Regions from separate parts of the Homo sapiens genome. Here all the other regions are linked to region 3. Evidence: fine-mapped expression QTL. A gene starts in region 3. Each other region holds a variant in brackets. All regions are shown on one strand. Distances are between the middles of the regions. Region 1 overlaps CDIP1 (cell death inducing p53 target 1). Region 2 overlaps GLYR1 (glyoxylate reductase 1 homolog). Region 3 holds the start of NMRAL1 (NmrA like redox sensor 1).

Region 1 (8,179 bases), 52 kb before region 3:
CATTTAAGACAGAAATGAATGGCAGCTTAGACTTGGACCCAGTCATCTCTGATGGCCTTGCAACCTCCAAAAGGTGTTCTCTGGCCAGGAGCAGACACTCACACCTATAATCTTAGCACTTTGGGAGGCTGAGGCAGAAGGATCACTTGAGGTCAGGAGTTTGAGACCATGGCAAACATGGCGAAACCCCGTCTCTAAAAATACAAAAAAAAAAGGCCGGGCACAGTGCCTCACACCTGTAATCCCAGCACTTTGGGAGGCCGAGGTAGGCGGATCACGAGGTCGGGAGATCGAGACCATCCTGGCTAACACGGTGAAACCCCATCTGTACTAAAAATACAAAAAACTAGCTGGGTGTGGTGGCAGGCGCCTGTAGTCCCAGCTACTTGGGAGGCTGAGGCATGAGAATTGCGTGAACCTGGGAGGTGGAGGTTGCAATGAGCCGAGATCACGCCACTGCACTCCAGCCTGGTCTCTGATGTCTGAGTCATAGAGAAATATATACATGGCCAAGCAGATGGCAGTCCCAATCATGACGTGAGCTCCTGTTTTCCCAAGCTTCCAGAATAAGTCTTCTGTCCCAGCCAGCATGAGTGAACTCAGGGCCAGATGTTGACTTAGAGTTACAGGAACTTAGGCAAAAACTGCAATTACTTTTGTACCAACCTAATAAACTTCTATATACTATTTCTTTCTTTTTTTTTGAGGCAGAGTCTTGCTTTGTTGCCCAGGTGGAGTTCAGTGGCGCACTCAGTTCACTGCAGCTTTGAACTCCTGGTCTCAAGTGATCCTCCTGCCTTGACTTCCCAAAGTGCTGAGATTACAGTCCTGAGCCACAGTGCCTGGCCTACTGTATACTATTTCTGTTTTTTTTGTTTTTGTTTTTTTTTTTTGAGATGGAGTCTCACTCTGTCGCCCAGGCTGGAGTGTACTGGCGCAATCTCGGCTCACTGCAAGCTCCACCTCGTGGGTTCAAGTGATTCTCCTGCCTCAGCCTCCCGAGTAGCTGGGATTACAGGCATGTGCCACCACGCCCGGCTAATTTTGTATTTCTAGTAGAGATGGGGTTTCTCCATGTTGGTCGGGCTGGTTTCGAACTCCCGACCTCAAGTGATCCGACTGCCTCAGCCTCCCAAAGTGCTGGGATTACAGGCGTGAGCCACTGCACCCAGTCTATATACTGTTTCATATAATGCAGTGTAAACTACTAATTCAGTTTGTTTCACACCCAACCAATGTAAGTGAATTCTTAGGGTCAGATGCCAACTAAGAGTGATAGAAACTCAGTTAACTAATTTCCATATGCTATATACTGTTGCATCTAATGTAGTGTAAAATACAAATTAGATTCCCACTCTCAGTTCCTAGAGCGCTTTCTTCACCCATCAGAAATGTCTTCAAAATAATTGAAAGAATGCCCTGTAACATGAGAGATCTAAATGTCGCAGGGATGAGCCACTGTCCTCACTGTTCTGAGGGAAAATTGCTGGAGGGGGAGCTTCTGTGTACAGGTATGTATGGTGACTGACACATTTGGAGGAAGAAAGCCTAGAGGTTTGCTTTTCCACATCCCACCCCGACCCACGGAATAGGGGGACTCAGGCAAGACCTGGCCGCGGGCAGAGCCCAGCTCCCTGGCTAAGGACGGCCAGGAGACATTTGTGTCTGAATTAAGACTCTTCCACCTGGGTGGCCGTGAGTGGCCACGTGTCTTGACTGCACTTAACGGCCTGGTGCTTTTTTGTAGGTTGCAGTGGTGTGTCTTGATCTCATCCAACAGACAGCTGGTTGAATAGAGTCAACCCAAGACTGTCCATTTTGTGTCTGCTCAGTACAGGCAGACAGAAGGATTTTTTTTAAGGGCTCCATTTTGAGCACTTAAATGATGGTTCTTTAGGTTCATGCTGTTTCTAAAATTAGTCAGCCTTGTAGTTACCAAGGCCTGCCTGTGGGACAGGTGCAGATGACTTGTTTATTCACTTGTGGTTGAGCTGTGTCTGATTTTTTCCTTTTGCTCTGCATTTCCCCTCCTGTCTGTGCTTCCTTCATTTTCTCTGCTAGCAGGAGAGCATGCAGGAACAAGCTCTTGAGCAGCGTTCTGCCTGGGAGGTAGTTCAGAGTCCTGGCGAGATCACTGGGCGAGTTGGGAGGCCGGGGCTGTGTCCTCAGCATGGGCTCTATCACTCGTTTTTATTATGCATCCAACGGGGACTTTCTTACCAGCCCTCTTTGGTCAGGTGACCTCCTGCTGGGTCTCCTGGCGGGGTCTCCTAGGCTAGCAGGACTGTGAGGTCATTACATTCCAACTTTACAGATCTAAACTTTCCATTTGCCTGGAGTACCGGGAGGTGATCTGGCAGAACTGACTCATTTGACCAAACTCATGGGAGACCTATGGCCATAAGGGGCTGGCTTTGGAGAGGAGGCCACTAACCAGTCCAGGCCTCTGGCTTGCTCTGCAGAGCATTTTCTCCTGTAGGTGAAATTAGATTATAGTCTGAGGTGTGTTTCTGGATTGAGGAGTATGAGGAGTAGTATATATATATTTTTTTGAGATGGAGTTTCGCTCTTGTTGCCCGGCCTGGAGTACAATGATGCGACCTCAGCTTACTGCAACCTCTGCCTCCTGGGTTCAAGTAATTCTTTTGCCTCAGCCTCCCAAGTAGCTGGAATTACAGGCATGCGCCACCACGCCTGGCTAATTTTTGTATTTTTAGTAGAGATGGGGTTTCACCATGTTGGCCAGGCTGGTCTCGAACTCCTGACCTCAGGTGATCTGCGTGCCTCAGCCTCCCAAAGTGCTGGGATTATAGGTGTGAGCCACCGCGGCCAGCCTTTTTTTTTTTTTTTTTTTTTTTGAGACAGGGTTCTTCCCCACTGTTGTCCATGCTAGAGTGCAGCGGTGCAATCATGGCTTACTGCAGCCTCCACCTCCTGGGTTGAGTGTTCCTCCCTCTTCAGCCCCCCAAGTAACTGGGATTATAGGCGTGAGCCACTGTGTCTGACTTATAATGAGCATTTTGAGGAAGGAGTCATGTAAAGGTGCTGCCTACCATTAAAAAACTAGAAACTCCACATCAGTAGAACGTTTCTGTATGTGTACTTACATATAAACAAATCCCCTAAACTCCTACTGCCCAGAAAAACTGTTAATATGTGTTATGGAAGAGTGCAGTGGCTCACGCCTGTAATCCCAGCTCTTAGCGAGGCAGAGGCTGGAGGATAGCTTGAGCTCAGGAGTTCGAGACCTGCCTGGGCAATATATCAGGACGCTGTTCTCCACAAAAAGGAAAAAACAAAGACAAAAAATGTGTTACGTATGTAAATACATCTAAAGAAGAATCACACTGTGCTACTGCTTTTTTATTCTTCACTCACTGCTATATTAAAACCATTTTTCTATGTCAATAAAAATCTATATCATTGGCCAGGCATGGTGGCTCATGCTTGTAATTCCAGCACTTTGAGAGGCCAAGGTGGGCAAAATCACCTGAGGTCAAGAGTTCGACACCAGCCTGGCCAACATGGTGAAACCCCATCTCTACTAAAATACAAAAATTAGCCAGGCTTAGTGGCGGGTGCGTGTAATCCTTGTTATTCAGGAGGCTGAGGCAGAAGAATTACTTGAACCCGGGAGGCGGAGGTCGCAGTGAGCCTAGACTGCACCATTGCATTCCAGCCTGGGCAACAAGAGCGAGACTCCATCTCAAAAAACAAAAACAAAACTATATCATTTTTTAGGGGCTGAATACAGTTACATTATATAGCTAATCACATGCATGTAACCAGTTCCATTTTCTTGAACATCAAGACAGTGGTGCATATAAACATCTTTGCCTGTGAATCTGTGTTCACATGTCCATTTACCTCTAGAACGAATACATTGAAGTGGAATTGAGTCCATAAGAGTGTACAGGTAGCAAGGCTGTCCAGGAAAGTTGTACTGATCCACTATGCTGTGGCCCCGTGCTGTGGACGGAGTGTCACCAAGTGAGAGTGGTTTGCCAGGAGGTTTTACTAAAATTCAGCATGATATAAATTGCACAGTAATTGTCATCATCATAGTTCCTAGAGGCCTTAGTACTTTTAGGTTTAGAACCATTCTTTGAGTCCTGTCTGCCTTTTGATTTTGCTTCTGCTTAAGAGCAACAGTGTCACCGGGTGCGGTGGCACTTGCCTGTAATCGCAGCACTTTGGGAGGCCGAGGCAGGTGGATCACGAGATCATGAGATCAAGACCACCCTGGCTAACACGGTGAAACCCCGTCTCTACTAAAAATACAAAAAATTACCCAGGCGTGTTGGCGGGCGCCTGTAGTCCCAGCTACTCGGGAGGCTGAGGCAGGAGAATGGTGTGAACCCAGGAGGCGGAGCTTGCAGTGAGCCAAGATCCCGCCACTGCACTCCAGCCTGGGCGACAGTGCGAGACTCCGTCTAAAAAAAAAAAAAAAAGTAACAGTGTCTTCTTTTTTCT[C/T]GTGTACTTCCTCTCTCAGGCTCCTGTGGCAGGCCTTCAGTGGTGTGCTCTTCACCCATGGCCTCTCCCGTGACTCATCACAATTCTTGATAAGGGGCTGCTCCTACCGCCATATCACAGATGAAAAAAAATCTGAGACTGGAGAGTCAGGTGGCAGGGCAGGGTGGTGGGCGTGGGGCCTGATGCCTGTGCCCCACTCGGTGCAAGATTCTGCCCCTGCAGCTCTGCCTGCGACACAGGGCTCATGCTTCTGTTGGAGGGCGCAGTGGTGTTTGGGGCCATGGGGTTGGGCTGATGTCTTTTTTATTTTATTTTTAATTTTATTTTTATTTTATTTTTTATTTTATTTTTATTTATCTTTTTTTTTTTGAGATGGAGTCTCACTCTGTTGCCCAGGCTGGAGTGTAGTGGCGCGATCTCAGCTCACTGCAAGCTCCGCCTCCCGGGTTTGCACCATTCTCCTGCCTCAGCCTCCTGAGTAGATGGGACTGCAGGCGCCCGCCATCATGCCTGGCTAATTTTTTTGTATTTTTAGTAGAGACAGGTTTTCACCATGTTAGCCAGGATGGCCTCAATCTCCTGATCTGTGATCCGCCTGCCTTGGCCTCCCAAAGTGCTGGGATTACAGGTGTGAGCCACCGTGACCAGCTATTTTTTATATTTTGAGACAGATTCTCAGACTATTGCCCGGGCTGGAGTGCGACGGTGTGATCTCGGCTCACTGCAACCTCCGCCTCCTGGGTTCAAGTAATTCTCCTGCCTCAGCCTCCCGAGTAGCTGGGATTACAGGCGGATGCCATCATGCCCAGCTAATTTTTGTATTTTTTGTACAAACAGAGTTTCACCATGTTGGCCAGCCTGGTCTTGAACTTCTGCCCTCGTGATCCGCCCACCTCTGCCTCCCAAAGTGCCGTAATTACAGGCATGAGCCACCGTGCCTGGCTAGGCTGGTGTCTTATTTCCGCTGAGACTCATCATGGTCGAGGAGGAGCATGTAGGGTTGGGTGGGAGGAGAGCTGGCAGATGGGAAAACCAGATCTGTTTTCTGGTCCTTTCTGTGACTTAAGTTGAGCTTGTTTTGAAGTGTTTAGAATTCCCAAGGCATCAGATACACCCATCTTCAAGTGTAAAAATAAATAAATGGTTCAGAGCCACCCGCGATGTTATCTGAGGGAGGGACTGTCTCGTCCTGCCTCCATCAGGACAATGGGAAATGGGCCATGTTCAGGATTTTCCAGGCCTGCCTGTGCTAGAACTTGGCAGCCGAGGACAACGGTCCCAGAGAAGGGGACACATTGGCAACCTCCCTGAGTCTTGGGAGGGCTCAGCCTCACTAGAGGCTGCTCTGCAACTGAGTGGACCTTTGTGGAGGGCCTCCTCTTTCCTGCTCATCACCCAGCGTTGGGAATAGGGTCCCTCTGGTCAGCTGCGAAAGGCCACAGGGAATCCTGGCCTGGTCCCACATGGACTTGGGTGGCTGGATTAGCCCCAGGTTTGGATAGGGCATGGTGGAGAGGGGAGTGGAGAGGGTTTGGGGCCCAGGAGCAGTCTCACAGCAGGGGCTCCCTTTTGAGCACCTCCTCACTTGGAGCACTTCCTTCATGTCCCTGTGCTGGGCACCTGCATCCAAACAGTGCATGCTCTATTAACGTTCACTGCACGCCATCGTCCTCCTCAGCTCCTCCTTGAGCCAGTGCTCATGCTGAAATGAGCACTGGAGTTGCAGAAGAATGTGTCCTCGCTCCAAGGCAACCAGCTGCACTTCTCTCGGGGCCTGTTTTAACTACGGAAGCATCTGCTCCAGCCTTCCCGCCAGGGAGTATTCCCCATGCCTTGGCCTCTGTACTGGCTGAGGCTGTGTCATGTGACCTAAAGAAAGCCATGATCCTTTTGATCATGGATCACTTGAAGAGAACTTGTGTTCCTTCAGACCTAAGGAACTGTAGAGATATATTTTTGTGGTGGAGGGGGGATAGAGTCTCACTCTGTTGCCCAGGCTAGAGTGCATTGGCGTGACATAGCTCTTTGTAGCCTAGAATCCCTGGGCTAGAACAATCCTCCCGCCTCAGCCTCCCAAGTAGCTGGGACCACAGGTGTCTATCACCATACCTGGCTAATTTTATTTTTTTGTAGAGATGGGATCTTGTTATGTTGCCCAGGCTGGTCTTGAACTCCTAGCTTTAAGCAGTCCTCCCACCTTGGCATCCAAAGTGCTGGAATTACAGGTGTGAGCCACTGCACCTGTCTGTGCTGTATATTTGTAATGACACTTGTTAATACTTAACCTGAAAATAATTTACCAATAATTAACCAGTAAACCAAGTTTTATTACTCATGTGGAAGATGTGGGAGGTGGTCAGTTAGTTGCTGGTGTGGTGTCCCATGGCTGTCCTAGGCACTGGCCTCCATCCCAAGGCCCTCATGGTGAAGCACAGCTACTGGAGCCATGGCATCTATCTTCCAGGTGGTAGATGGGAGGAAGGCAGGAAAGATGAAGGGCCTGGCTCCGGGCTGAGTCGGCTTGCCCTGAATGCCTTCTTATGGTCTGGACACTTCTGCTTACAGCTCATTAGCCAAAGCTTTGTCACTCTAAGAAAGCTCGGGGACCCTCTTGGTTGATGGACTTGCCCTGAGTGAAAGTGGAGTTCTGTATTCAAGAATGGGGGAGAGAGTGGATTTGGGTGCAGCTGGCAATCTCCAGTCTGTACTTCATTAGGCGGAACATTGCTGTTTGAGATCTTGTTATTCTGCCTTCTTCCTTTGCAGTGTGATGTGGAGGAGCACAGCACAGCTCTGTATGGGTGGTGGTATCTGCGTAGTAATTCATGGAAGGCGTCTCCAGCAATACAGCCTGGACATCTACATGTGGGATTTTGTTCAGCCTTCCAAGAACCTCATTTTGCACGTGGGGAAACTGAGGCTCAGAGAGGTTGAGGAATTTGTCTAGGGCTGCAGGCCATCAGCGGCGAGGCAGGGTCCCAGGGAGACCTGTGCTCTCCCAATATTCTATTGACAGTCAAGCAAAGAAGACCGCTGTCTTTGTTTCCAAGTGCCACAATGCAACAAGGCTGAATGGTGCCGGAGGTCTCCTGGGGAAGCCTAAAGCCTGAGGAGAAGGGCCTGGGACACTGTCCAGCTGGCCTTGTCATCCTTGTCCTGGAGATCTGAGGTATTTGAGCTCTGGAACAAACCCTGTGGCTGGGTCGCTGTGAGGGCCCCAGGCTGCCATCTGGCCACCCTCAGGGGCACATCCCTCCTTCCTTAGGCCTTGTGTACTCACTGTTCCCTCTGCTGTCCCCATCCCTCCCTTTGCCTGCTGGTCTCATTAACTCTTCCGCCACCTCCTCCCAGGTTTGCTTGAAGAGATGGTGTTAGAGCTCCAGAACGGCGATCTTGCTGTCCTTCTACTGTGCCCTGGACTTTCTCGATACCACTGGTCACAGATGTAATTGTGTTTGTGGTTTTTTGGCGAGGGGGGTGATTATTTAACGCTCATCCTCTTCACTTGACCGTAAGCTTCTGGAAGGCAGGGACATGTCTTTTTTTTTCTTTCTTTGAGATGGAGTCCCGCTCTGTCGCCAGGTTAGAGTGCAGTGGCGCGATCTTGGCTCACTACAACCTCCGCCTCCTGGGTTCAAGTGATTCTCCTACCTCAGCCTCCTAAGTAGCTGGGATTACAGGCACGTGCCACCACGCCCAGCTAATC
Region 2 (8,179 bases), 340 kb before region 3:
AGAAGTCTTATTAACCTGACAACAGTGTTGAGAAACAACCCAAAAACGAATGGCCACCAGGTGGAAGGCTTCCAGCGACATCCCCACATTCCCAGCAGAGTGTTGATAGCTCAGGGCCACAGCCAGGACAGCACAGCGGGGGCTGGGGAGAGGTGCTACTGTTCATACCCCATTCTTGAAACAGCATACCTTCAGCAGACACTTGTGAAGCAGTTCATCATCCTAGGCACTCGTCATGCAAAAACTGAAGATGGCCAGTAAAAGGCCCCGTGCACTTCCCCAAAAGTTGGGCTCCTATCTCCATGACCCAGGCTCCCGGCCTCAGCCTCCTGCCTTGGTAGGCCGCCAGGAGGCCTGGTCAGCAATTCTCTGGCCTGGCTGGCATGTTTGTTGTGCACTGCCTGCAGCTCACGTTAGGATCTGTGACTTTTGCAGTGTGATTTGTTCATCCAGGAGGGGGCCCGTCTGGGAAGAACCCCCGCTGAAGTCGTCTCAACCTGCGACATCACTTTCGCCTGCGTGTCGGATCCCAAGGCGGCCAAGGACGTAAGGACCCCCTCCCTCCCCTCAGCAACTCCGGGTCACAGCCAGGATTGCTGGCTGGCCTCTTCCCCTCCTCCCCTGCACACCAAGTGAGTGTCCACATGTGGGGGGCTGAATTTCCCATCAGGGGCCATCTCCCATTGTGAAGGGTGTTTGCATTAATTGAATACAGACTTCCTTTAATTCAGATCAAAGAATGAACACTACTAGGGCCCTTGAAGTCTGTGCTGAAATGTGTCTTGAACAGGCTTCATGTGTTCTTGTTGAACTAGAAGCTTTGGAACTGAATGTGCCTTTGGTCCAGGTGCCAAGCTTCTATGTTTAGCTGTCACTGTATTTGTATATTTTAGAAGTTCAAGTGTGGTAGTCATCTTATTAAACTGGTGACTAGCCTAATCCAAGTAAATCCAAAGAAGTCCCCAAAGTAAATGCTGAGGTTTATTCTTTTAAATGGGGTTTGTTTTTTTTTTTTTTTAAATAAAAAGAAATGCACACACTCACATAGATTCTTTTTAAAGATAAATGGGAGCATGCGGGAAGTACTTTTCTATCCCTTGCTTATTTCATTGTTCTTCCCTTTTCAGCTGATAGAAATCAGGAAATGAGCCAAAACAGCAGCAGGATTCTGATCTGAGGTCTGTAGGGCTCCTGAGCATCTGCCCGGGAGCCTGGGCTATTGCTTCTCCCTTGTGTCCCCACAGCTGGTGCTGGGCCCCAGTGGTGTGCTGCAAGGGATCCGCCCTGGGAAGTGCTACGTGGACATGTCAACAGTGGACGCTGACACCGTCACTGAGCTGGCCCAGGTAGCAGCCTTCCTTGGGCTGGCTCTCCAGCATCTTTTCTATCAGAGCCCAAGACCCAGGCTTACAAGAGTGGGCAGTTAAGTTACTCTAGAGCCAAAGCCAGAGAGGGAAGAGGAGAGGCGAGTAGCCTTGGGACTAGCCTATCCCGTGCTCCACCTTCAAACCGCAGCTAGTCTGAACAGCCATGGGCAGTCGCTGCATGGCTGGGATGGGCATCAAGTCCTGGAGCTGCCAGCCTTATGATGAGAAGCAACCCAGGCCGCCCGCCTGGCATTGGGGTTTGAGCAGCTGTCTGCATTTGACACTGGCAAAGCATCCCTCCTCCCCGAGCATCTGGCCCAAATAAGGGAGTGGGGACTTTGGGACCCACATATGTTCTGAGGGGAGGGCAGCATCCACAGGGGAGGTGTGTGTTCAGCCGAGCCATTGACATGGTCACATCTGGTTCTAGTTGTTGGTCTCTAAGAAATTCCAGTCCGGGCGCGGTGGCTCACGCCTGTAATCCCAGCACTTTGGGAGGCCGAGGTGGGCGGATCACGAGGTCAGGAGATCGAGACCATCCTGGCTAACACGGTGAAACCCCATCTCTACTAAAAATACAAAAAAATTAGCCGGACGCGGTGGCGGGCACCTGTAGTCCCAGCTACTTGGGAGGCTGAGGCAGGAGAGCGGCATGAACCCAGGAGGCGGAGCTTGCAGTGAGCTGTGATCGTGCCACTGCACTCCAGCCTGGGCAACAGAGCAAGACTCCGTCTCAAAAAAAAAAAAAAAAATTAGCCAGGCATGGTGGCGGTTGCCTGTAGTCCCAGCTACTGAGGAGGCTGATGCAGGAGAATGGCATGAACCCGGGAGGCAGAGTTTGCAGTGAGCTGAGATTGCGCCACTGCACTCCAGCCTGGGCAACAGAGCAAGACTCTGTCTCAAAAAAACAAAACAAAAAAATTCCGGCCAGGCGTGGTGGCTCACTCCTGTAATCCAAGCACTTTGGGAGGCCGAGGCGGGCGGATCACAAGGTCAGGAGATCAAGACAATCCTGGCTAATATGGTGAAACCTGTCTCTACTAAAAATACAAAAAATTAGCCAGGCGTGGTGGTGGACGCCTGTAGTCCCAGTTACTCGGGAGGCTGAGGCAGGAGAATGGCATGAACCCGCGAGGCGGAGCTTGCAGTGATCCGAGATCGCTCCACTGCACTCCAGCCTGGGCGACAGCGAGACTCCACCTCAAAAAAAAAAAAAAAATTCCAAGTCAGTTGGGTTCCTGTGTGGAGACCCCAGCGTCTCATCACTGCTGTGATTCGGCCTGTGTGACCTGCACATGGTTAGCTCCTGAGTTTAGGTGTCAGCTAAAGGACCTTGGTATGGGTGGCCGTCCCCTCCAGCTCTGGAAGGTGATGAGCAGCCGTGGCCACTCAGCAACACTCCTTGAGTCCTGCCCAGAGAGCGCTGGGAGAGGGGAGGCCTCCAGAAGCTGTGACTTTTCTTTCCAGGTGATTGTGTCCAGGGGGGGGCGCTTTCTGGAAGCCCCCGTCTCAGGGAATCAGCAGCTGTCTAATGACGGGATGTTGGTGATCTTAGCGGCTGGAGACAGGGGCTTATATGAGGACTGCAGCAGCTGCTTCCAGGCGATGGGGAAGACCTCCTTCTTCCTAGGTAACACGCCTGCACCTGTCAGGCCTGGAGCCTGGGGCCACATCTCCTCTGTTTCACACTGATGACAGCGTCAGTCCCACACGGCCTTTCTGCCGGGGACCCTGGGGAAGGTTTCCTTTCACCTGCATAGTCAGTGCGTGGAAGGAGGAAGAGCCAGTCTGTCGGGGGCAGGTGAAGGGGGCCTCCCCTGGAGAGAGGTGGGTCTGAGCAGAGGTGAGGGTGGACAGAGAAGCCCTGTCTGTGGCATTCTTGGGCTGTGACCGTGAGTCTTTACCCTGGGCAGGTGAAGTGGGCAATGCAGCCAAGATGATGCTGATCGTGAACATGGTCCAAGGGAGCTTCATGGCCACTATTGCCGAGGGGCTGACCCTGGCCCAGGTGACAGGCCAGTCCCAGCAGACACTCTTGGACATCCTCAATCAGGGACAGTTGGCCAGCATCTTCCTGGACCAGAAGTGCCAAAGTGAGTTGTTTTTGGCCCCTCTTCTTGCATTTGGTGTTTGATTAGAGCAGGGTACTAGGTCAGGGATTTAGTGAGCGTGAAAGATGCCCCTCCCCAGTCAGTCCCTGACCCTGGCCAGAGGAGGTTCAGAAACACAGTGGGCGGGATTTGGGGATATAGGCTGGGAGCTGCAGCCCTCAGGTGTCTAAGGGTGAGTGAGGAGCCAAGAGGCCTAGGCTATGTGGAACTGAGCCCTGAGTATGTTTTAGGTACTGACACCTGGTGGACCGTAAGTAGTTTTTAGTTTCAGGTCCTTGGCTTTTGTCTGATACTGGCTTTTTCTCCTCAGATATCCTGCAAGGAAACTTTAAGCCTGATTTCTACCTGAAATACATTCAGAAGGATCTCCGCTTAGCCATTGCGCTGGGTGATGCGGTCAACCATCCGACTCCCATGGCAGCTGCAGCAAATGAGGTAGGGTAGATGTGGCCCAAGCCCCAAGGCCCTTCAGTTTCTTTTTCTTTCTTTTTTTTTTTTTTTTAACGGAGTCTCACTCTGTCACCCAGGCTAGAGTGCACTGGTGCGATCTCAGCTCAATGCAACCTCCGCCTCCTGGTTTCAAGCAATTCTCCTGCCTCAGCCTCCTGAGTAGTTGGGATTATAGGTGCCCACCACCATGCCTAGCTAATTTTTGTATTTTTAGCAGAGATGGGGTTTCTCCTTGTTGTTCAGGCTGGTCTCGAACTCCTGACCTCAGGTGATCCACCCGCCTCTGCCTCCCAGAGTGCTGGGATTACAGGCATGAGCTACCACGCCCAGCCATTCAGTTTCTTTTTCTTTTTCTTTTTCTTTTATTTTGAGACAGAGTCTTGCTCTGTCGCCTCAGGCTCTTGCCACCACGCCCGGCTAATTTTTTTTTTTTTTTTTTTTTTTTTTTTTTTTTTAGTAGAGACAGGGTTTCACCATGTTAGCCAGGATGGTCTCGATCTCCTGACCTCGTGATCTGCCCGCCTCGGCCTCCCAAAGTGCTGGGATTACAGGTGTGAGCCACTACACCTGGCCAAGTTTCTTTTTCTTTTATCGTTTCCTTCC[C/T]TCTACTTAGTTTAGCTTTTCTTTGTTCTTTTTCTTTTTTTTGAGACAGAGTCTCACTCTGTCGCCCAGGCTGGAGTGCAGTGGTGTGATCTCAGCTCACTGCAGCCTCTGCCTCCTGGGTTCAATAGATTTTTGTGCCTCTGCCTCCCAAGTAGCCTCCCAAGTAGCCTGGGATTACAGGCGTGCCCCAACCCGCCCTGCTAATTTTTGTATTTTTAGTAGAGATGGGGTTTTGCCATGTTGGCTAGGCTGTTCTCCAACTCCTGACCTCAGGAGAGCCACCTGCCTCAGCCTCTCAAAGTGCTGGGATTACAGGTGTGAGCCACTGTGTCTGGCCTCTTTGTTCTTTTTCAAACCCTTTAAAGTGGAATCTTAAATCATTTATTTTAATCCTGCTTTCTTTATAACATGAGTATATAAATCTTTAAATGTCCACTAATCCGTGTTAATTTGTTTTCTGATTTCTTCTTTGATCCATGAATTACTTAAAAGTTTATCTAGTGTTTGGGTTTTCCTAGATATCTAATGATTATTGATTTTTAACTTACTGCTCTATGATCAAAGAACATGCCCTGCCCTGTATTGGGTTTTTTTTGTTTTTTTGTTTTTTGTTTTTTTGTTTTTTTTGGAGACAGAGTTTTGCTCTTTCGCCCAGGCTGGAGTGCAGTGTCGCGATCTCGGCTCACCGCAACCTCTGCCTCCCAAGTTCAAGCGATTCTCATGCCTCAGCCTCTTGAGTAGCTGGGATTACAGGCACACACCACCATACACAACTGATTTTTGTATTTTTAGTAGAGATGAGGTTTCACCATGTTGGCCAGGCTGGGCTTGAACTGCTGACCTCAGGTGATCCGTCCACCTCAGCCTCCCAAAGTGCTGGGATGACAGGCATGAACCACCACAACCAGCTGCCTGTATGATTTTTTTTTTTTTTTTTTTTGAGACGGAGTTTCGCTCTGTCACCCAAGCTGGAGTACAGTGGCACGATCTCGGCTCACTGCAAGCTTCGTCTCCCGGGTTCACTCCATTCTCCTGCCTCACCCTCCTGAGTAGCTGGGACTGCAGGCGCCTGCCACCATGCCTGGCTAATTTTTTGTATTTTTAGTAAAGACGGGGTTCCACTGTGTTAGCCAGGATGGTCTCATTCTCCTGACCAAGATGTTGAAACCCCTATCTCTACTAAAAATACAAAAAATTAGCTGGGCATGGTGGCAGGCACCTTTAATCTCAGCTACTCAGGAGGCTGAGGCAGAGAATTGCTTGAACCTGGGAGGCGGGAGGTTGCAGTGAGCCTAGATCGCACCACTGCACTCCAGCCTGGGCAACAGAGTGAGACTCCATCGCAAAAAAAAAAAAAAAAAAACGAAAGCTGCTACAGCCTTCTCAGGCTTATTGTTTTCATGGTATGTATATTTTTCCATCCATTTCCTCTCTTATTTATGTCTAAATTATGGCTTTGATAGACAGTATGTAATTGGGGTTTGGATTTTTATCCATTTTGACAGTATCTGCCTTTTAATTAGCATGTCTATTAGCATTTTTCAAATGATGTTTTAAGCACTTAACACGTGCACTTTTTTTATATTTGAGACACAGTCTCACTCTCTTGCCCAGGTAAAGTGCAGTGGCACAATTATAGCTCACTGCAGCCTTGACTTCCTAGGCTCAAGCAATCCTCCCACCTCAGCCTCCCGAGTAGCTGGGACTATAGGCGTGCACAACTGTATCCAACTTCACATACACTTTCGAAAAGCTTTTTAGGGTAGAAGTTCCGCTTTCTTAGCTCATCTTCATAGAATTTGAATCTAAAAAAAAAACAACTGAAAAACATTTGTCTTTACCATATTATTATAATAAAAATGACACTTTGTGAAACAGCAGCTGTATTTTTAAAGTACTATCAGCTGATACACTTTTATTTTATGTTATTTTATTTTATTTTATTTTATTTTAGAGACCGAGTTTCACCCTTGTTGCCCAAGCTGGAGTGCAATGGTGTAATCTCGGCTCACTGCAACCTCTGCCTCCTGGGTTCAAGTGATTCTCCTGCCTCAGCCTCCACAGTAGCTGGGATTACAGGTGCCTGCCAGTACTCCTGGCTAACTTTTTGTATTTTTAGTAGAGATACGGTTTCACCATGTTGGCCAGGTTGGTCTCAAACTCCTGACCTCAGGTGATCCACCCACCTCAGCCTACCTAAGTGCTGGGATTACAGGCGTGAGCCATGGCACCCAGCCAGTACTGTTCTTTTGACACCTGGCTTTTCATAGTATAATTCTCTGTTCCTGAATTGTATTTTTTTTTTTTTTTTTTTTTGAGACAGAGTCTCACTCTGTTGCCCAGGCTGGAGTGCAGTGACATGATCTCAGTTCACTGCAGCCCCCACCTCTTGGGTTAAAGTGATTCTCCTGCCTCAGCCTCCCAAGTAGCTGGAACCGCAGGCATGCACCGCCACACTTGGCTAATTTTTGTATTTGTAGTAGAGACAGGGTTTTACCATTTTGACCAGGCTGGACTCGAACTCCTGGCCTCAAGTAATCCGCCTGCCTTGGCCTCCCAAAGTGCTGGGATTACAGGCATGAGCCACCGCATGCAGCCTTGTTCCTAAATTCTGTCTTCTGTCTCTTGTCTGTTTCAACATTTCAGAGTACTTATTTCATGACTCTTTCAGATTACATTACTATTTCAAGTCCCCCCTGTTCATTCTACCAGTGGATTCTCTCTGGATAGTAGAATTCGTTGTGTATTTTATAAGTCTTTTTTGATGAAAGCTCATTTCTGACTATAGTTATTTCCCAAGGGTTTCATGTGGCTTGGGCTGGGAAAGCTTCTCTTTGAAGTGACTTCCAAGTTGCCTCCACCCTGACTACAGGATTCATTGGCTTGGAAGCAGAGTTTTTAGGTTAATTTCTCAATGCAGCTCGCTGCTTTCAGGTCGTTTGGATGGTATGAGCTTAGACTCTATACTGTTAGGAGTTCAGAGGTTAGGTTCTGAAGGTTAACTGGTGCATTGACCTTTAGTAGTTGTATTGATATGTGGTTCAATTTGGGGCTGCCATTTTATCATTTGATTTCTGTTCGTTGTCTTTGTCTTTTGTTTGTTCCTCCTTTCTTACTTTCTTTTTAGAATTCCAGTTTCAGCTGGGCACGGTGGCTGACACCTATAATCTCAACACTTTGGGAGGCTGAGGCGGGCAGATCACCTGAGGTCAGGAGTTCGAGATCAGCCTGGCCAATATAGTGAAGCCCAGTCTCTACTAAAAATACCAAAAATTAGCCGGGCATAGTGGCGGGCACTATTAATGCCAGCTACTCCGGAGGCTGGGACAGGAGAATCACTTGAACCCAGGAGGCGGAGGTTGCAGTGAGCCGAGATCGTGCCATTGCACTCCAGCCTGGGCGACAGACCAAGACTCCGTCTCAAAAAAAAAAAAAAAAAAAAAAGGGGCCAGGCGCAGTGGCTCACGCCTGTAATCCCAGCACTTTGGGAGGCCGAGGCGGGTGGATCACGAGGTCAGGAGATCAAGACCATCCTGGCTAACAGGGTGAAACCCTGTCTCTACTAAAAATACAAAAAATTAGCCAGGCGTGGTGGCGGGCGCCTGTAGTCCCAGCTACTCGGGAGGCTGAAGCAGGAGAATGGCGTGA
Region 3 (8,179 bases):
TCCAAAGACACCAAAAACTTAGGCTCATCAAGTATTAACTTCCTGCCTCAGCCTCCCAAGTAGCTGAGATTACAGGTATGTGCTAGCATCCTACTTATTGTTCACTCTGATAGAATTTTTTTTTCTTTGAGATGAAGTTTTGCTCTTGTCGCCCAGGCTGGAGTGCAATGGCATGATCTTGGCTCACTGAAACCTCTGCCTCCCAGGTTCAAGCAATTCTCCTTGCTCAGCCTCCCGAGTAGCTGGGATTACAGGCTACTTTTTGCAAGGCTAATTTTTGTATTTTTAGTAGAGACGGGGTTTCACAATGTTAGCCAGGCTGGTCTCGAACTCCTGACCTCAGGTGATCCACCCGCCTTGGTCTCCCAAAGTGCTGGGATTACAGGCGTGAGCCACCGCACCCAGTCTAGGTCAAGTTTTTCATCTCTTTCCTTTCCAAGGAGTTAAAGCTGAATTTCAAATTTTACAGTGAAATACACAATTCTAATTTTCTTTCTTTCTTTTTTTTTTTTTTGAGATGCAGTTTTGCTCCTGTTGCCCAGGCTGGAATGCAGTGGCACAATCTTGGCTCATCGCAACCTCTGCCTCCCAGGTTCAAGTGATTCTCCTGCCTCGGCCTCCCAAGTAGCTCGGATTACAGGCACACACCACCATGCCCAGCTAATTTTTGTATTATTATTATTTTTTTCTTAGTAGAGATGGGGTTTTTCCATGTTGGTCAGGCTGGTCTCTATCTCCCGACCTCAGGTGATCCGCCCATCTCGGCCTCCCAAAGTGCTGGGATCACAAGCATGAGCCACTGCACCGGGCCCACAATTCTAATTTTCAAATATATCTTCCTCCTGGAGGAGTGATATTCCAGTTTTGGGTGCAATCCTGATGTAGAGCCCAACTGTCCTGTGAAGAGAGTCAGCTGTTAAAAGGAAACCAAAAAATCAAGGTAGCTCTAGCTGTCCAATTTTACAAGTTTTCAACAGACTTGATGAGGGGTGAGCTAAAGGCGGTCAATGCTTTATTGTCTGTAACTCACTGGCACTGGCATTTCTAGAGTTGCTCACGTTCCCCCTTTTGGTGACTCACAGCACTTCAACATGTTGCCACAGCCAAGGAAAAAAGGAAATCAAGTCAGACAATGGAGGAATCACAGGATTTCCCTCTTCACATCCCCAGGTAGATGAGGTCATTCAATGAGTGTGTTTCCAAGGCTCCACAAATTCCCACACCCTCACCAGTGTTTAAACCTGAATGTTTTATCTGATAACTTTTTCTAATTTCACCAAGTAAGCTTATATATGTCTTAACTGTGAACTCCTGATAAGCACAAATTTTGTCTTGTGATAATTTATTTTTTTCTTTTTTGAGACAGGGTCTCACTCTGTCACCCAGGCTGGAGTGCAGTGATGCGATCTCAGCTCACTGCAATCTCCACTTCGTGGGCTCAAGTGATCCTCCAACCTCAAACTCCCCAGTAGCTGGGATTACAGACACGCGCCACCCCGCCCGTTTAACTTTTTTGTATTTTTAGTAGAGACGGGGTTTCACCATGTTGGCCAGGCTGATCTCGAACTCCTGACCTCAGGTGATCCGCCTGCCTCGGCCTCCCAAAGTGCTGGGATTACAGGAGTGAGCCACTGCACCGGCCAGCGTTTCTTTCTTCAATCACACTCCACCTTGTCTGGTTTGTAGCGCCATCAACAAAACACAGTACGTAAGGATGGACAGCCACAGGCCACGACAACCGGCTCATCAGAAGCGATTTTTTTTTTTTTTTTTTTTTTTTTTAGATGGAGTCTTGCTCTGTCGCCCAGGCTGGAGTGCAATGGCGTGATCTCGGCTCACTGCAACCTCTGCCTCCCGGGTTCAAGCGATTCTCCTGCCTCAGCCTCCTAAGTAGCTGGAGCTACAGGCTCACGTTACCATGCCCGGCTGATTTTTGTATTTTTAGTAGAGACGGGGTTTCACTATGTTGGCCAGGCTGGTCTCGGACTCCTGACCTCAAGCAATCCGCCCGCCCTGGCCTCCCAAAGTGCTGGAATTACAGGCGTGAGCCACCGACCCGGCCCAGACGCGATTTAAATGGCATGACACAGGCAGGCCTCGTGCAAAGACTGCAAGGAGGTCCCGGCAGCTTTTGCAGGGCAATTAATCCACCCAGAGCACTGCGCTCAGAAAGTAATAGGTAAACCCGCGTCCGGACTAACCGGCTGCCCCCACACTTGATCCCTCCCAGTCCGACTCTGCTCCAGGGCGTACCAGGGTTCACTCGTGAAGTCACGACACCCACTCAAGGGGCACTTCCTATAGAGATAAGGGCATTAGAGGAAGGGCAGAGCCCCGGTCAATGCCAACAGCCCGGGAAACAGCCAAGCCGGGCTCCAATCTCTGCCGGCATCCCCTGTCTGCACCGCCGACGCCCCCAGCTACGACCCCGGGGGTCACCTCGCCCAGCATAGCCGTGACGCTGGGAGAGGGTGGGCCCAACGGGGACGCCAAAGAGAGCCATTCAGGCCTCCCCGCGCCCCCGGGGAGACGACTTCTGGAGAGCGGCGTCCGCGGTTTCGCCCTCCCCTGACAGCCCCTCCACGCCCTTCTTCGTCCTTCTGCCCGGCCTCACCCAGCTTCCGGCCGCCCCCGGCCGGGTCTCCCCTCAGACCGGCGCAGGGGACCCAAAGGGCTGTGGCCCGGCCAAGCCCAGGTCCGAAGGCCTGGACCGAGGCAGGGCCCGCGAAGGACGCAGCGCGGTCCGAGAAGCCGGGCGGAAGGAAGGCCCCGGGAGGGCGCGGACAGCTCACCTGCCGCAGGTCGCTGTCGCCTGTCCGCCAGCCTCCAGTCAGCGTGCCCGTCAGCGACTCCCTCAGGCGCCGCAGTCCCTGCAGCCCAGCGGACTGGCGCGAGGCCGGCGCAACGTGGGCACGCAGCGCGGGGCGGGGCCTAGAGATGACACGCCCCTTGTAGCTGACACGCCCTTGCCGGGGGCGGGAAGCGGAGTATGTGGCTTTCCCCAGGTCTCTGGAGGTTGCAGGCTCAGGCTCTGCTCAGCGGGGTAAGTAGGCGTGCTTCGGCAGGAACACTAGTGTTCACAAGAGCCGAGGTGTGTGAGGGTGCCTCAGGGTTGAGCACTTTTCTTCCCCAGTGTGGTTTAATCCTTGTACATCCACTCAGTGATGTAAGAAATAGGGTTGTCAACCGTGGCACCACCCACTTGGTCACTTGCCAATGCAATCTGCGAAACTGAGTCTCAACTCTGACACCTCGGTTACCAGTCTTGTATCTGATCTCCCTGTTGCATTATTCGCATTCTTCAAACAGCGGCCAGAATGACAGAATGATTTTTCTTTTTTTGAGACCGAGTTTTGCTCGTCGCCCAGGCTGGAGTGCAATGACGTGATCTCGGCTCACTGCAACCCCCTTCTCCCGGGTTCAAGCGATTCTCCTGCCTTAACCTCCCGAATAGCTGGGATTACAAGCGCCTGCCACCACGCCCGGCTAATTTTTGTATTTTTAGTAGAGACGGGGGTTTCACCATGTTGGCCAGGCTGGTCTCGAACTCCTGAGCTCAGGTGATCCACCCGCCTCGGCCTCCCAAATCACTGCAATTACAGGCCACCGCACCCAGCCCAGAGTCATTTTTTAGTTTTACTGAACACAAAGAAATTACTGAAATCGTGGGCCGGGTGTGGTGGCTCATGTCTGTAATCCCAGCACTTTGGGAGCCTGAGGCGGGAAGATCACTTGAGGTCAGCAGTTCGAGACCAGCCTGGCCAGCATGTTGAAACCCCGTCTCTACCAAAAATACAAAAAAATTTTAGCCGGGCATGGTGGCTCCTGCCTGTAATCCCAGCTACTCAGGAAACTGAGGCAGGAGAATCACTTGAACCCAAGAGGCGGAAGTTGCAGTGAGCCAAGATCGCACCACCACTGCACTCCAGCCTGGGCCACAGAGCAAGACTCCACCTTGAAAACAAAAAACAAAAACAAAAAAAAACTGAAATCAGTGCAAGTAGCAGCAACTTCAGAAGTGAGTTAGGGCTGGGCACGGTGGCTCCCACCTGTACTCCCAGCACTTTGGGAGGCTGAGGTGGGTGGATCACTTTAAGTCAGGAGTTCGAGACCTGCCTGGTCAACCTGGTGAAACCCCGTCTCTACTAAAAAATACAAAAATTAGCCGGGCTTGGTGGCACATGCTTGTAATCCCAGCTACTCGGGAGGCTGAGGCAGGAGAATCTCTTGAACCCGGGGGGCGGAGGTTGCAGTAAGCCGAGATCGCGCCACTGCACACCAGCCTGGGCGACGGACCAAGACACTGTCTCAAAAAAATAAAAATAATAAAATTTTAAAAGTGAGTTAGGCAAAGAAAATATCAAGCGGACAAGGCCTCAAGGGATAAGACTCATGGACATAGCTTTAATTATCTTTGCCTGACGCCCAATACCTGAAAATTAAGATGTTCATGCAAGATAAAGAGGTAATTTTTCTCCTCCTCCCAGTCATCACCCGTAGCATCCGGTTAAGAGGCTCTCCACCTCGCTCATTTTGGTCTAACTGGATTTACACAAACTCACTGTGCACGTGCCTGGGGCGGGCAAACCCGGAAACGACGCCGAGTCCCGCGGGATCCAGGAGGAGCCAACTGCGCCGGAGGAGGGGTTTCGGCCGACACGTCGGGATTGGCGGCTGCAGCCAGGGGTCCTCCGACGCTGGGCTTCCGTGAGCGGCGCTCTGCCAGGTGGGGCCGGAGCTGCGGGGAGGGAGTTGGCGCCTAGCGCGCAGCTCCATCCCCGCCTCTGCAGTGGACTCGGCCGCAGAATCGGGGTCCCGGGCTCCTGGAACTTGTCCCGCCCAGGCCGCGGCGAGGAGGTCACTCCAGCCGGTGGGACCCGGGCCGGGGGGCGGGTGACTGGAACCGGGGGAGGCGGGAAGGAGGAGGGGATCGGGCCCAAGGGACACGAGGTGGGTCGCGGGACCCCGATATCTCGGGACAGGCGTCTTGCCGCTCCGGGCCCAGCCGCCCCCTTCGACACATACTCGATGCATAGACAATGGGGGTGTCCTTTGTCGCTCCTGGCGGGAACCCCGGCCCCACCCCCAACTCCACGCCTCCCATTACCCCCAGATCTCTGGACCGGATTCGTCCCATTCTCGTCCTCATGGTGGACAAGAAACTGGTGGTGGTTTTCGGAGGCACAGGTGAGCCAAACCCCAGACTGGGGCCCTTGCAGAGCCAGGGCGCCTAGCCCTGAAGACCGCCCGTCCTGGGGTCTGCAGGGAGGGGTAAGGTCACTGGGACCCCCGACCCAGGTTGGGGCTGTGGTCGCAGGAACGAGGCCCAAATTGCTTTCCAATTTTTTTTTTTTTGGACGGAGTTTTGCTCTGTCACCCAGGCTGCAGTGCGATGGCACGATCTCGGCTCATTGCAACCTTTGCCTCCCGGGTTGAAGCGATTCTCCTGTCTCAGCCTCCCGAGTAGCTGGGATTACAAGGGCATGCCACCACGCCCGGCTAATTTTTGTATTTTTAGTAGAGACGGGGTTTCATCATATTGGTCAGGCTGGTCTCAAACTCCTGACCTCAGGTGATGACCCGCCTCGGCCTCCCAAAGTGCAGGTATTACAGGCATGAACCACCACGCCAGACCTGCTTTCCAAATTAAAAAAAAATGAGTTACTTAACTTATTTGAATAGGAGTACTTGAACATGATACCAAAATTAAATCTTCTTCCTAGCCTCCTCTTCCACCTCATCTATTGCTGTTACCAAGTTTCTTGAATATCCTGCCAGAGTAGATAACATGTTATCATTTTTTCAAATGATAGCATATTATTTCATTCCTATTTTTTCTTATTTATACATATTTAATATCTCTAACAGCTTTATTGAGATATAATTCACGTACTATACAATCTACCTGTTTAAAGTGTGCAACTCACTGGTTTCTAGTGTATTCATAGAATTGTACAACCATCACCACAATCAATTTTAGAAAATTTCCATCACTCCAAAAAGAAACTCTGGCCCAGGTGCAGTGGCTCAACCCTGTAATCCCAGCACTTTAGTTGGACCAAATGGGCAGATCGCTTGAGCTGAGGTGTTTGAGACCAGCCTGAACAACAGGGCAAAATCTCGTCTCTACAAAAAAATACAAAAATTAGTGGGGCGTGGTGTCATGCACCTATAGCTACCTAGGAGGTTGAGGTGGGAGGATCACCTGAGTCCAGCAGGTCAAGGCTGCAGTGACCTGATTGTGCCACTGCACTCCAGCCTGGGCAACAGAGTGAGACCTGATCTCAAAAAAAAAAAAAAAAAAAAGAACTCCATGAACCCGTGAACAGTTACTCCCCATTCTTACTCCTCCCAGCCAACCCCTAGAAAGCTCCAATCTACTTTTGGTTTCTATGGATTTGTCTATTCGGGACATTTCATATGAATAAAATCATAATATGTAGCCTTTTCTCTCTGGCTTCTTCAGTTAGCATGTTTTCAAGGTTTGTTCATGTTGTAGTGTGTGTCCGGGCTTTACTCTTTTTTTTTTTTTTTTTGAGACAGAGTCCCGCTCTGTTGCCCAGGCAGCAGTGCAGTGGCGTGATCTCTGCTCACTGCAACTTCTGCCACTCGGGTTCAAGCGATTCTCCTGTCTCACCCTCCTGAGTAGCAGGGACTACAGGCGTGAGCCACCATGCCTGGCTAATTTTTGTATTTTTAATAGAGATGGGGTTTTGCCATGTGGCCAGGCTGGTCTCAAACTCCTGACCTCAGGTGATCTGCCCACTTCAGCTTCCTAAAGTGCTGGGATTAGAGGCTTGAGCCACCGCGCCCGGCCAACTTTACTTTTTTATTTTTAAGACAGAGTTTCTCTCTTGTTGCCCAGGCTGGAGTGCAATGGTGTGATCTCTGCTCGCTGCAACCTCTGCCTCCCGGGTTCAAGCAATTCTCCTGCCTCAGCCTCCCAAGTAGCTGGGATTACAGGTGTGCACCACCACACCCAGCTAATTTTGTATTTTTTAGTAGAGACGGGGTTTCACCATGTTGGTCAGGCTGGTCTCGAACTCCTGACAGCTTTACTTATTTTTATGGCTGAGTAATATTCCACCGTATGGATAGACTATATTCTGTTTGTCCATTCGTCAGTGGATGGATACTTGATTTATTTCCACTTTTTGGCTATTATGAATAATGCTGCCATGGAACATTGGTGTACACTTTTTTCTGAGTCAGGGTCTTGCTCTGTTGCCCAGGCTGGAGTGCAGTGGCTCAATCATCACTCACTACAGCTTTGACTTCCAAGCCTCAAGCAATCCTCCTGACTCATTCGCCTGAGTAGCTGGGACTTCAGATGAGCGCTAACAGGCCCAGCTGATTTTTTAATTTTTTGTAGAGACTGGGTCTCACCCTGCTGCCTAGGCTGGTCTCAAACTCCTGGCCTCAAGCAAAACCCATCCCCCTTACCCTCCCAAAGTGCTTAGATTACAGCTATGAGCTACTGTGCCCGGCCTCAGTCCTTATTTTTGATGCATTTCTGTGTAAATTGCAGATATGTGTACACCGCCCTTCCATACTAAAGCATGCATAACATTAGCTAGAATTCAGTATTTGTTTATAGATTATTTTTAATTATGAGGTAAAATATACATATAATAAAGAATTTTTTTTTTTTTTTTTTTTTGGAGACAGGGCCTTACTCTGTTACCCAGGCTGGCGTGCAGTGGTGTGATCACGGCTCACTGCAGCCTCAACCTCCTGGGTTCAGGCTTTCCTCCAGCCTCAGCCTCCCTGGTAGCTGGGACTACAGGCACATGCCACCACGCCCAGCTAATTTTTGGTTTTTTTTTGTAGAGATATGGTTTCACCATGTTGCCCAGGCTGGTCTCAAACTCCTGAGCTCAAGAGATCTGCGTGCCTCAGCCTCCCAAAGTGTCTGGATTACAGGCATGAGCCCCTGGGCCCAGCTGCAACGCGCAAAATCTTAAGGGTACATCTGACCGATGCGCATGCCTGTGTGACTCAAGCTCCATCGAGATCTGAATAAGTTTTTGTATTCCTTTCTGTTAACTATTTTTCTTTGTCTCGTTTTTGAGCAGATCTGAATATGGTTGTGTATCTGAATATGGCTTTATATTCTACTTCAGGAAGAATTCAAATCCCATCAAGATCTGAATATGGTTTTTTCTTTTGTTTTGAGACA

Evidence for each region.
Region 1: its variant is fine-mapped to the expression of NMRAL1 in whole blood (TOPMed, PIP above 0.99).
Region 2: its variant is fine-mapped to the expression of NMRAL1 in Th17 cells (Schmiedel 2018, PIP 0.95).

The regions. Positions count from the first base shown.
Region 1 is chr16:4,523,363-4,531,541 of GRCh38, reverse strand. All of the region lies in intron 1 of CDIP1 (cell death inducing p53 target 1), which reads left to right. Among named protein-coding and RNA genes, the nearest start is that of CDIP1, 11 kb to the left of the region's middle. RefSeq lists enhancers at 1,159-1,810, 1,811-2,463. The variant C/T (reference allele first, on the strand shown) is at 4,474.
Region 2 is chr16:4,806,904-4,815,082 of GRCh38, reverse strand. GLYR1 (glyoxylate reductase 1 homolog) reads left to right here. Exons shown (of 16, transcript NM_032569.4): 11 at 436-546; 12 at 1,245-1,346; 13 at 2,835-2,997; 14 at 3,281-3,460; 15 at 3,789-3,913. Among named protein-coding and RNA genes, the nearest start is that of ROGDI, 8.4 kb to the right of the region's middle. The variant C/T (reference allele first, on the strand shown) is at 4,532.
Region 3 is chr16:4,471,101-4,479,279 of GRCh38, reverse strand. NMRAL1 (NmrA like redox sensor 1) reads left to right here and starts at 4,655. Exons shown (of 6, transcript NM_020677.6): 1 at 4,655-4,726; 2 at 5,114-5,187. The coding sequence starts at 5,148. It overlaps HMOX2 (heme oxygenase 2), which reads right to left and starts at 2,882. Exons shown (of 6, transcript NM_002134.4): 1 at 2,793-2,882. It overlaps LOC124903636 (a long non-coding RNA gene), which reads left to right. Exons shown (of 3, transcript XR_007064964.1): 3 at 1-16. RefSeq lists an enhancer at 2,585-3,086.